Linked DNA regions of Homo sapiens. The protein of the gene in region 2 purifies or fractionates together with the protein of the main gene of each other region. This does not show direct contact. Each region holds a gene or a part of one and is shown on either strand. Other genes may lie near its edges. The genes, in order: CCDC144A, RAB28 and MNS1.

Region 1 (3,656 bases), on a different chromosome or scaffold from region 2:
TTTAAACAGCAAACATTTGGGCAGTTCGAGTATGTAAAACTCAGTAATACTGGTTTTCATTTGCAAAATCCACTTAAAAGTTAGCTGAAGAGGCCAAGAAACATTATTTAAAATACTATATAAATTTTCATCAGACATGTATAATATAGAATATTTCCCTTTAGTAAAAATGTTCACATCATATATTTAATGGGAAACAAAATATCATGTGAATAGCCCAAATAAAATTGCCTTATCTTTCAGAGTATGTATTTTCTTCTTAAAATCTGTGCATATTCTTTTGTTACTTCCAAAACTGGATCTTGATTCAGATTTTCCTTGTGTGTAAATCCTAGAGGAGAAGCTATATAGGATCCAGGTTCATATTTAGTAGCAGCTGAAAAAAAAAGCAAGAATTATATTATTATTATTATTGTTATTATTTTAAGATAGGGTCTCACTCTTTCACCTATGCTGGAGTGCCATGGTGTGATCACAGGTCACTGCAGTCTTGTCCTCCCAGGCTTAAGCAATTCTCCTGCCTCAGCCCCAAGTACTTGGAACTGCAGGCATGAGCCACTGTGCCTGGCAAGCTTTTGTATTTTTTATAGGGGCAGGGTTTCGTCATGTTGGCACAGGCTGCTCTCAAACTCCTGGGCTCCAGTGATCTGCCTGCCTCAGGCTCCCAAAGTGCTGGGACTACAAACGTGAGCCAACATGCCTGGCCAAAGAATTATATTCTATATATTTCATAGTTAACTAAGTGCAAATCAGTAAAAAAGAGTTGAGAGCTTTTTCAGTGTTAACAAGAATGAAAAGTATGTATGACTACAATGCTAACTTATTATTAGATAAGAATCTGCCCACAGTTGCACACTAAATTAATGATCATTGTGGTTGTGTATCACAGCTTCTGGTTTTCTCATTCTTCATTCATTTATTCAACAACCACATGCTAAGGTACTAGACTATGCCCTGGAGTTACAAGATGAAGATGATACAGTCCACCCCTCAGCAATCATATGCTATAACCTGAAAAAGCAGACAAATAGGCAATTTCCATACCAAGTCATAGATACCCTGACAGGTATAAAACAGGGCACTATTGGAATGCAAGAGGGACACCTATCCCAGTTTTGTCTCGATACTGTAGGCTTTTCGGTGGAGGCATGGTTAGTGGATACCTGAAGGATGAGAAAAAAAGGTTGGCAGATAGAGCAAAGAAGCAAGTGCAAAGAGCTGGAGGAGAAGGACGAGCACTGTGGAATTCTGTGCAGTCCAGTTTGGCTGGATCCTAGAGCAAAGGGGCAGAGTAAAGTAAGTGGTGAGAGATAAGCCTGAGTAACTTGACAAGAACCAAATGAATGTGGGTGTTTATATTACATGTTAAGGAATTTGGAACTTTTTCTGAGGGCAAAAGTAAACCAATGACACTGTAAATGACTGGAGATTTAAAGTGTTACCTCTCAAGCGACTGCTTATAAACTGTAACTGCTTGAATAGGTTACTAGATGAGACTGGGATGTTTTGGCCTTAAAAATCACTACCATAACCCTGAGAAGTTGATGATGCTTCTGTTTTCTGAGAACCGTTTCTGTGTGCTGGCTGACAATTCCATAGGGATGGCAGAAGTGAAGAGTAGAGCCAGACTTCTTGAGCTATTTTTTTCAAGCTATGGAACGTGATGAATTCATGAGGCATAAGTATGCTCTTCATTATACATGTTCAAGTTTTCACATCTTTCATTAGATGTATATGAAAGAATATTTAATGTAGTATCTACTAGCCCAAGAACGGAAAGGGATGTCGTTTGCAGTTTATTTCAGATATATATTACTTAATCTAAATTTAATTCATAAATTTTGGTAACATACCTGCTACTTCTGCAGTTAGATCATTTTGCAACTTCTGCTGCATCTGAAATAAGTCAAATATTATTTATAACGTTTAAGAAGATACATTATCATGGTAAGGAGCATTAATTACAAAATGCGGCCTTTAAATAATACTTTTACAGACTAGACCTAACTTGAAGATTGCTTAAATTAAAAATATCATATAAATTCCTACCTATTTTAAGTTTAGATAATGGAGAACATATATGTGTTATGCTGTTTAGATTAATCTCACAAAAGTACAATTAATATTGGTCTGTTGGAGCTATGTCATTTCAAAAGTGTGATGTTTTCCCTTATTAGTACAGAGGTTACACAATTCAAGTCATATTCTGCAATGAATGCATTACTTTCCCATTCTTATCAAAACTCTGCCCTTTATCAAGGTCTAACCAGTTTTTCACTTTAATGAATAGTTCCTTACAATGAACTCCCCATTCTCCACTTTTAGAAAATAATAATTTCAAAGTATGTTCTTTGCTATTAATTCAGCACAGAATCTTTAATACATACTTGAAGAAAGCAGTATTGTTGTGATGCCATGTGAAAGTTCCACTGGCAAAAGATTAAAAATATTATGCTATTATGATTAACATTTCTTCATTCATACGGACACAAAGATTTCAGAAAATTTACATAAAAACAAGGATAAATACAGGTTAGAGCCAGTTTTCAATCTTAGTTTCTTTGATTCATGAGTGTCTAGAATTAAAAACTAGGAAAACAATTTAGAGTTATTTAACTGCAACTTTGATTTCTTTTCAGAAATTAGTACCCATTTTTTAAGCATCTGACAAGTTATAGTTATCTACTTAATTATGAAAGGTGTCAGAATATTTCAAACTTATTGCCAGTGTCCCTATCTAGAGTGCTCTTATTTAATTTTTTTTTAGAATAGGTATTCTCTCACTAAATGCCTAGAACGGGGTCTGAGATAGTTTGTGGTGATAAAGATAATGATATCTAATGCCTTTAGAAATTTTAGGTGTCAAGTCAATTTTTTTTTTTACTAACAGGTTTACCAATATTTTGAGACTCCTTTCCATAACATTTCTGTGACAAAAACATTATAGATAGGCTTTATAGAGTAGGTAACATGACAACAGCATTACCATCCAGGCCTTATAAAAGTAATAATTCAAGAAATGATCCTTTTCAAGCTATGTCCCACAGAAATCTAAGGTTCCACAGAGGATGCTGAAGGATTAAGGGATAAGAAAGTCACAGCTTCAGAGCACTGATCCTTCCTTTAGTCAGGCAGCACTACTTCTGTTTTCTATAATGTGGTTTTATGCAATTTAAAAAAGTTCCATTCTTAAAAAAAAAAGAGATTTACTTAAACGTATGAATGTCACTGATTTAGTCAAAGTCCTTAATTTTACATAAGAAACAAAACAGGCTCGGAGAGACTGCAGCTTGCCTGAGGTCACAAAACCAATTAGTTACAAGGTAGGAGTGGGCTTCAGATCTTTCACTGAGCCTGGAGTTATTCTATGCCAGCACCTTCCTTCATATTCAGAAAAGAAATACAGATTTTTAAAAATAACTCAGGCTGGGCACGGTGGCTCACACCTGTAATCCCAGCACTTTGGGAGGCCGAGGCGGGAGGATCACAAGGTCAGAAGATCAAGACCATCCTGGCTAACACAATGAAACCCCGTCTCTACTAAAAATACACAAAATTAGCCGGGCATGGTGGTGGGCGCCTGTAGTCCCAGCTACTCAGGAGGCTGAGGCAGGAGAATGGTGTGAACCCAGGAGGCGGAGCTTGCAGTGAGCTGA
Region 2 (3,656 bases):
CATTTATGCCTTCTGTGTACGTATCTCTAAAAGCTTTGGGAATAGATTGTATGTATGAATCAGTGTTTATTGCAGAAGATGGAGAATGTTAACTTTTTGCCAAATTATGATACCCTTGAAACCTCATTTTGTCTCTTTTGTTGGGAAAAAGATACTAGTATAAGAAAATTTTTATTAGTGGTTAACTAATGAGTTAAGGTGCTGACCACATTGTTTGGCACTTCTTTATTTAAATCCTTTTGGAGCCTCTATTCAATTTTAAAACATCCTTGACTGTAGTGATATTAGTTTTTGATGTTATTTTATTGTCAGTTTAGTAGTGTTATTAATTAGTAAGGATTTCTATGTTTTTTCACTATTCCTAGATAGTTTTCTTAGGCTAAGAAAAAAACATGCATAGCGGCAGCCAAGAAATTTAAAGTACCACTATAATTTCCCACTAATTCATATGTTTGATAGAATGAAAAATCAGAGTAAGAGCCTATAAAGTTATGCTTCAGAAGTGGTTTGGTTAGAAGTAACAAACTAATTACATTTTTGCTCAATTTCTTCCACCCCATTCGCACCCTGTGCAACTAAAAAAGTATAATTATCTTTTCCCATCCTTAAATTTTTCTTGAATTCTTTTAGAGTTAGTTCTGTATCTTTTTCTCATGGTCTCTCTCTCTCTCTGTGTGTGTGTGTGTGTGTGTGTGTGTTTTAAAACAATTGAAGCAAATATTTGAAATTGTTACACTGATATGGCTGTTTCTAAGACTTGATTAAAACATTTGAAACTCTAAAAGTTTGCTAGTTTTAATTCCCATCATTCAAAGACATTTGTTTTAGCACTTGGTATGGCCAAATACAGTGCTAAGATACTTTGTGATGTTTAAATAGCTCCCAGACACAGAAAAAGTGGTTACTTGTTTTGGGCCTAGGAGAATATAGGAAAGAGAAGTCACCATGATTTGCTTGATCACACAGACCTTGGATCCCAGAGGTCAAGTAATTTGTTTGCTTTTTAGCTTCTCTGTCTAAATAATGTTTGTCTCTGCTTAGTTAGAGAGTCTATGATTATCATAAGTGATTTATTGGTCATACATTGTAAACTCAGTATAGTGGTGGGTCTAAAAAAGAATTAAAAGACTTTAAAATGTCCCTGCTTTTAGTAAAGAAAATTAATAGGTTATGTGCCAGGGGGACTGTGTTATCTCAGTTATCCTCATAATAACTCCCTGGATCAGGTGAAATTTTATCATTTTATGATCAGGAAGCTGAGACTGTGGAGAGACTCAGTAACTTGATCACTAACCATTAATTGGGCAGTGGTGGAGCCAGAATTTGCACCCAGGTCTCTCTGACACCAATGCCCTTGGTATTTCCACTCTGCCATACTGGGGGAAAGTGTACTGGGCAGTTTGGAGTGGGAAGGGAGAAAATGGCTGAAAGAGGAGCTGGTATGAATAATATACCTGGGTAGAAAAGGTTAGGTTGTATTTTGGAAACAGAAGAGCAGTTTGGTTAAAATAAATGACCATTTGTGTTAGAGTATAAAGAGTTTGAGAACAGATTTTGGGGATTTATGAATGCCAAGTTGATTAATTTTATTAGACCTATAATCATTTTGAGGTAGGGCAATAAATGAAAGCAGTTTTTAGGTAGAATTAATCTAATGGGATATTTTTATATGTCGTTGGATGGGAGGGAGATTGAGGTAAGGAGACTGAGTTACTGCTACCATGTGAAAAAGACCAAAGTCAAGATGGAATGGAAAGGTTGGATGGATGTAAGGGAGATTTTAAAGAAGAACCAATAGGGCTTGTGGAATTATTGGATAAGAGAGGATAGAAGTCTGAGATAACCCTGAGGTTTCTTGCCTGGAGGAATGAAGACAGGAGAAACCCAATGATTGGTTGTCTTTCTGAAAAGGGGAATGGTGGGCTGGTGCTTCACAGGTGAGAGGGCTGCACTGAGGAAGGATTCCTTGTACTGCCTGAGCTGTGCAGTGGTGATCAGATACAAGGAGACCTCTGGAGAAATGAAACAACTGGAGGCAAAATTTGGGGGAAGCTTTATTAACATTAGGTCCCTCATGTTGCAAGATCAACAGGGTTACTATTTTGACTTTAGATATGGGCTTAATATCCTAGTGTGTTTTAAATAAAGAGATATTAGATGTGTTAACTACATAGTTCCCTACCCTCCCTGCACATCTACTTTGTTTATTATGCTTTGAGGTTTAATTCTATCTTCAGTTTGTTGGTGGCATTTACTCTTAATGCATTCATTTGAAGGTGAATTCAAGTTACTGCAGCACTCTTCTATATGTTTGTCAAAATTCTTTGTGTATAGCAAGAATCCTTATTAGTCTTTCTTGATCCTGATGAATTTGGTGTTTTTGCCAATTAAATTATTGATTTTACAATTCATATTTCTCAGTGGAAACATTTTGGCAAGTTCATCTAAAAGACTAAGAAGTGCAGATTATATATATATACACACACACATATATACACACACACACATACATACATACATACATATATATACACACACATACACACTGCATGTGGTTGTTGCGACATTTGAAAGATTACTGGGGGGATTCAAGGGAATGTTTGAAAGTACTTTGTATTATTCTATAGAGAAGGAGTTAAATGGCAGACTCACCAGTCCCATTGATGTTGATGCTCTACTATAATAATTTAGTTTGTGACATAAATATTTACAGTGAGGTTTTAGTCCTAGTTTCATTCACTGACAATTTAAAGAGATTCTGCTAGTTTATTTCTAACCTAGATTGCTCCTATTTGGGAGTTATATAAAATGAGTTATCAACACACTTTGCAAGCTTTGCAAGGAAGAGGAAGAGAGAGAAAAGAAAGTGAATGCAGTTTATTAACACAGTAACCATATTTTGAGGGTCTGTGTAATGCCAGGGGGCCACACTAGAATCTGGGGATACAGAAATGAATAAGAGAAAGTCCCTATCCTCAAGGAGCTCCCAGAATAAGTGGGGCAGCCAAACATTTAAACAATGAACACTATAGATCCATTTTTCACAATTCCCAATTTGGTTAATAGTTTCATTTGCATCATTTATGTAGTCTTCCCCTTCTCCACTACCAACCATTATCCTCTAAGGTAGTGTAAGAATTGATACTGTTGTTAACAAGTGTTCTAGTTTCCCAGATTGTTCAGATTTTTTATTTGCAAAGTACATAGACCTTTAGGAGAAAAAATAAATTTACAATTGCCGTTGTTTAGGAAATCCAGCAATCGGCTCTTTAAGAATGCATTAGATAATTGATAAAGAAAAAGCATAGTCCTTTCAGTCCTGTCTTGTGTCCTTCAGTCTGAATTGCAAGGAAGTTTTGCCATATCTACTTGGTGTTAAGAATTCTTAATACATTTTTAAGCCTCAGCATTTTTACTTGCCAATTAATAAACTGTGAATTTCTACTTGGTTTGAACTAGGTATGTATTAGTTTTTAAAATACCAAAAATTTCTATCATGTCTGAGATATTCATTAAACTTGCTAAAAATATATATTCCTTATTGTCCCCTCAAATTATTTTCAGACTGTATCTGAAAGTATCTCATGTAAGGCTTGGCATGTAATAGACATGCTCAAGATTTTAGTTACCTTAATTTGCATATTATTGTACAGTAC
Region 3 (3,656 bases), on a different chromosome or scaffold from region 2:
AAATTTATATATATATTAGTAAACATACTAACATTGTCTGGCATATAAAGCTTCTCAGTAAATGTTTAGTGGATGATAGATGAGCTATTGCTGTTTAATGATAATGACCAAAAAAACCCCACAACTTTTTCTTACTTTGTCTGCAAGGAATTGTTGGCGACGCTCTTCAATAAGTTTTTCCACAGCCCTCCTGTGTTCCAGCTGCTTCATTCTTTGTTTCTGAGCATTCATTAATTCTATTCGATCATCCTCAGCAAATTTAGCTAGCATAGTTTTTCTAAAGTTCTCCTCTTCCTCTTTTGCAGCCTGTAGCACTAATTCCTTCAAGGCCATTTGTTCTTCAAAATCTTGCTTCATCTCTTTTTGCTTTCTCAATTTCTTTTCTGCTTCTTCCTAAACAATACAGCTGAAAGTTAATTTAGTAACTATTTCCTTACACCAGATTTATAAGGAAAGAGTGATAGAGTTTGGTTAAATTTAGTATTACAATATGAAATCATACAAACTGAAAAAGTAAGGCTTTTCATGATAACTTTGTCCATCCCTTTAAAACTAGCTGGATAAAGAATATGCTTACATTTGGATTGTTTTCTGTTACTCATGAACAAATTTTAATTTATATTTACCATCTTGTTTCTCTACTCAGAATTAACACGTAACTGCTTTGGAAAGAGCTGTTACAAAAGCCTTTTTTGCACACCTGAGTTTATTCATCTAAAGTCTATGGTAACTATGAATCATTCTAGAATCTTGCTTACAAAAGCTGTCCAAACCACCCATAAGTATTTTTCAGTTTCCAACCTCCTCCTCAAAATCAAAGCTGCACTTACCCATCTCTAGTCTTCTAATATTCCCTTCATTCTCCAAAATTCTCTAAAATTTAAAAACAATTATCTAGCAATGACAATCAGTACTTCTTTAGGGAAATTCAAATATAGTTGGAACAGTTAAGTCCTTTCCTATAAGCTTTTATTTTCTGAACATTTTATTATGAAAAATTTCATACATACTAAAAAATATAATTTTACAATGGTCACTCACTTCTAAATAATTCATGGGCCAAAGAGGGAATGCCAAGGAAAATAAATACATTGTAGTTAATAAAAGTGAGACAGCAAAATTTGTGAGATGCTGCTAAAGCAGTTCTGAGAAACATTTATAGCACTAAATGGATACATTTAGGAAAATGTATATATATAGCACTAAATGCATGTATGTAGGAAAAGTCTCAAATCGATAATCTAAGCCCCCACTTCAAGAACCTATAAAAAGAACTGTAAAGTAAACCCAAAATATGCAGAAGGAAAAACATAATAAAACTGTAGAAATCAATGGAATTAAAAATAGAAAATAGACAATTATTGGTGAAACAAAAGGCTGGTTCTTAAAAATTATCAGTGAAATGGACAGACCTTTAACAAGGCTGACCTAGAAAAAAAAAATGAATGAATAAACAAATAACTAATATCAGGAATAAAACATAGGATATCACTAGAGACCCTACAGACATCAAAAGGATAATACAGGAATACTACAAATTATTATACACACATAAATTTGGCAACTTAGATGAAATGGATCACTTCCTTGAGAAACACAAGCTACCAAAACTCACCAAATATGAAATAAGGTAATCTGAATAGTCCTATCACTATTAAGGAGACGGAATTAATAACTTAAAATTCCTCCAAAATAAAACCCCAAGTCAGGATGGTTTCACTAGAAAATTCTATCAAATATTTAAAAAATTAACACGAATTCTACACAATCTCTTCCAGAAAACAGAAGAGGAGGAAACATATCCCCATTCATTTTATGAAGATAGTATTACCCCGCTACCAATATAAAAAATTACAGACCAATATTCCTCGTGAATATGGATGCACAAATCCTTAACCCAATATTAGAAAAATAGATCATACATTAAAAGAATTATTCACCATGACCAAGTAGTGTTTATTACAGGGATGCAAGACTGGTTCAATACTCAAAAATCAATGTAATATACTTGGCTAAAGAAGAAAAAGTCATAATCATATCAGTAGAAAAAAGTGTTTAACCAAGGATATCCAGGAATTGAACTCAGTTCTGCACCAAGCAGACCTAATAGACATCTACAGAACTCTCCAGCCCAAATCAACAGAATATACATTCTTCTCAGCACCACACCGCACTTATTCCAAAGTTGACCACATAGTTGGAAGTAAAGCACTCCTCAGCAAATGTAAAAGAACAGAAATTATAACAAACTGTCTCTCAGACCACAGTGCAATCAAACTAGAACTCAGGATTAAGAAACTCACTCAAAACCGCTCAGCTACATGGAAAGTGAACAACCTGCTCCTGAATGACTACTGGATGCATAACGAAATGAAGGCAGAAATAAAGATGTTCTTTGAAACCAATGAGAACAAAGACACAACATACCAGAATCTCTGGGACACATTTAAAGCAGTGTGTAGAGGGAAATTTATAGCACTAAATGCCCACAAGAAAAATCAGGAAAGATCTAAAATTGACACCCTAACATCACAATTAAAAGAACTAGAGAACCAAGAGCAAACACATTCAAAAGCTAGCAGAAGGCAAGAAATAACTAAGATCAGAGCAGAACTGAAGGAGATAGAGACACAAAAAACCCTTCAAAAAATCAGTGAATCCAGGAGCTGGTTTTCTGAGAAGATCAACAAAATTGATAGACCGCTAGCAAGACTCATAACAAAGAAAAGAGAGAAGAATCAAATAGACGCAATAAAAAATGATAAAGGGGATATCACCACAGATCCAACGGAAATACTACCATCAGAGAATACTATAAACACCTCTACGCAAATAAACTAGAAAATCTAGAAGAAATGGATAAATTCCTGGACACATACACCCTCCCAAGACTAAGCTGGGAAGAAGTTGAATCCCTGAATAGACCAATAACAGGCTCTGAAATTGAGGCAATAATTAATAGCCTACCAACCAAAAAAAGTCCAGGACCAGATGGATTCACAGCCGAATTCTACCAGAGGTACAAGGAGGAGCTGGTATCATTCCTTCTGAAACTATTCCAATCAATAGAAAAAGAGGGAATCCTCCCTAACTCATTTTATGAGGCCAGCAGCATCCTGATACTTTGGTCGTCTGTCATCCTGACAGAGACACCACAAAAAAAAGAGAATTTAAGACCAATATCCCTGATGAACATTGATGCAAAACTCCGCAATAAAATACTGGCAAACCAAATCCAGCAGCACATCAAAAAGCTTATCCACCATGATCAAGTGGGCTTCATCCCTGGAAGGCAAGGCTATTTCAACATACACAAATCAATAAATGTAATCCAGCATATAAACAGAACCAATGACAAAAAACACATGATTATCTCAATAGATGCAAAAAAGGCCCTTGACAAAATTCAACAGCCCTTCTTGCTAAAAACTCTCAATAAATTAGGTGTTGATGGGACATATCTCAAAATAATAAGAGCTATTTATGACAAACCCACAGCCAATATCATACTGAATGGGCAAAAACTGGAAGCATTCCCTTTGAAAACTGGCACAAGACAGGGATGCCCTCTCTCACCACTCCTATTCAACATAGTGTTGGAAGTTCTGGCCAGGGCAGTCAGGCAGGAGAAAGAAAGAAAGGGTATTCAATTAGGA

Evidence for each region.
Region 1: the proteins of RAB28 (region 2) and CCDC144A purify together in Homo sapiens (affinity purification with mass spectrometry; one large-scale study listed by BioGRID and IntAct). This does not show direct contact.
Region 3: the proteins of RAB28 (region 2) and MNS1 purify together in Homo sapiens (affinity purification with mass spectrometry; one large-scale study listed by BioGRID and IntAct). This does not show direct contact.

The regions. Positions count from the first base shown.
Region 1 is NC_000017.11:16,770,217-16,773,872, reverse strand, and holds part of CCDC144A (coiled-coil domain-containing protein 144A), read right to left. Parts: intron 1,897-3,656; coding exon 1,854-1,896; intron 1,274-1,853; coding exon of another isoform or gene 1,005-1,273; exon of another isoform or gene 698-1,004; intron 377-697; coding exon 240-376; 3' UTR 1-239. UniProt on the Homo sapiens protein: May play a role in preventing the formation of kidney stones through inhibition of calcium oxalate monohydrate (COM) crystallization, attenuating COM-induced apoptotic injury to renal epithelial cells.
Region 2 is NC_000004.12:13,372,811-13,376,466, reverse strand, and holds part of RAB28 (ras-related protein Rab-28), read left to right. Parts: intron 1-3,656.
Region 3 is NC_000015.10:56,434,003-56,437,658, forward strand, and holds part of MNS1 (meiosis-specific nuclear structural protein 1), read right to left. Parts: intron 1,946-3,656; exon of another isoform or gene 1,779-1,945; intron 1,338-1,778; exon of another isoform or gene 394-1,337; coding exon 136-393; exon of another isoform or gene 1-135. UniProt on the Homo sapiens protein: Microtubule inner protein (MIP) part of the dynein-decorated doublet microtubules (DMTs) in cilia axoneme, which is required for motile cilia beating.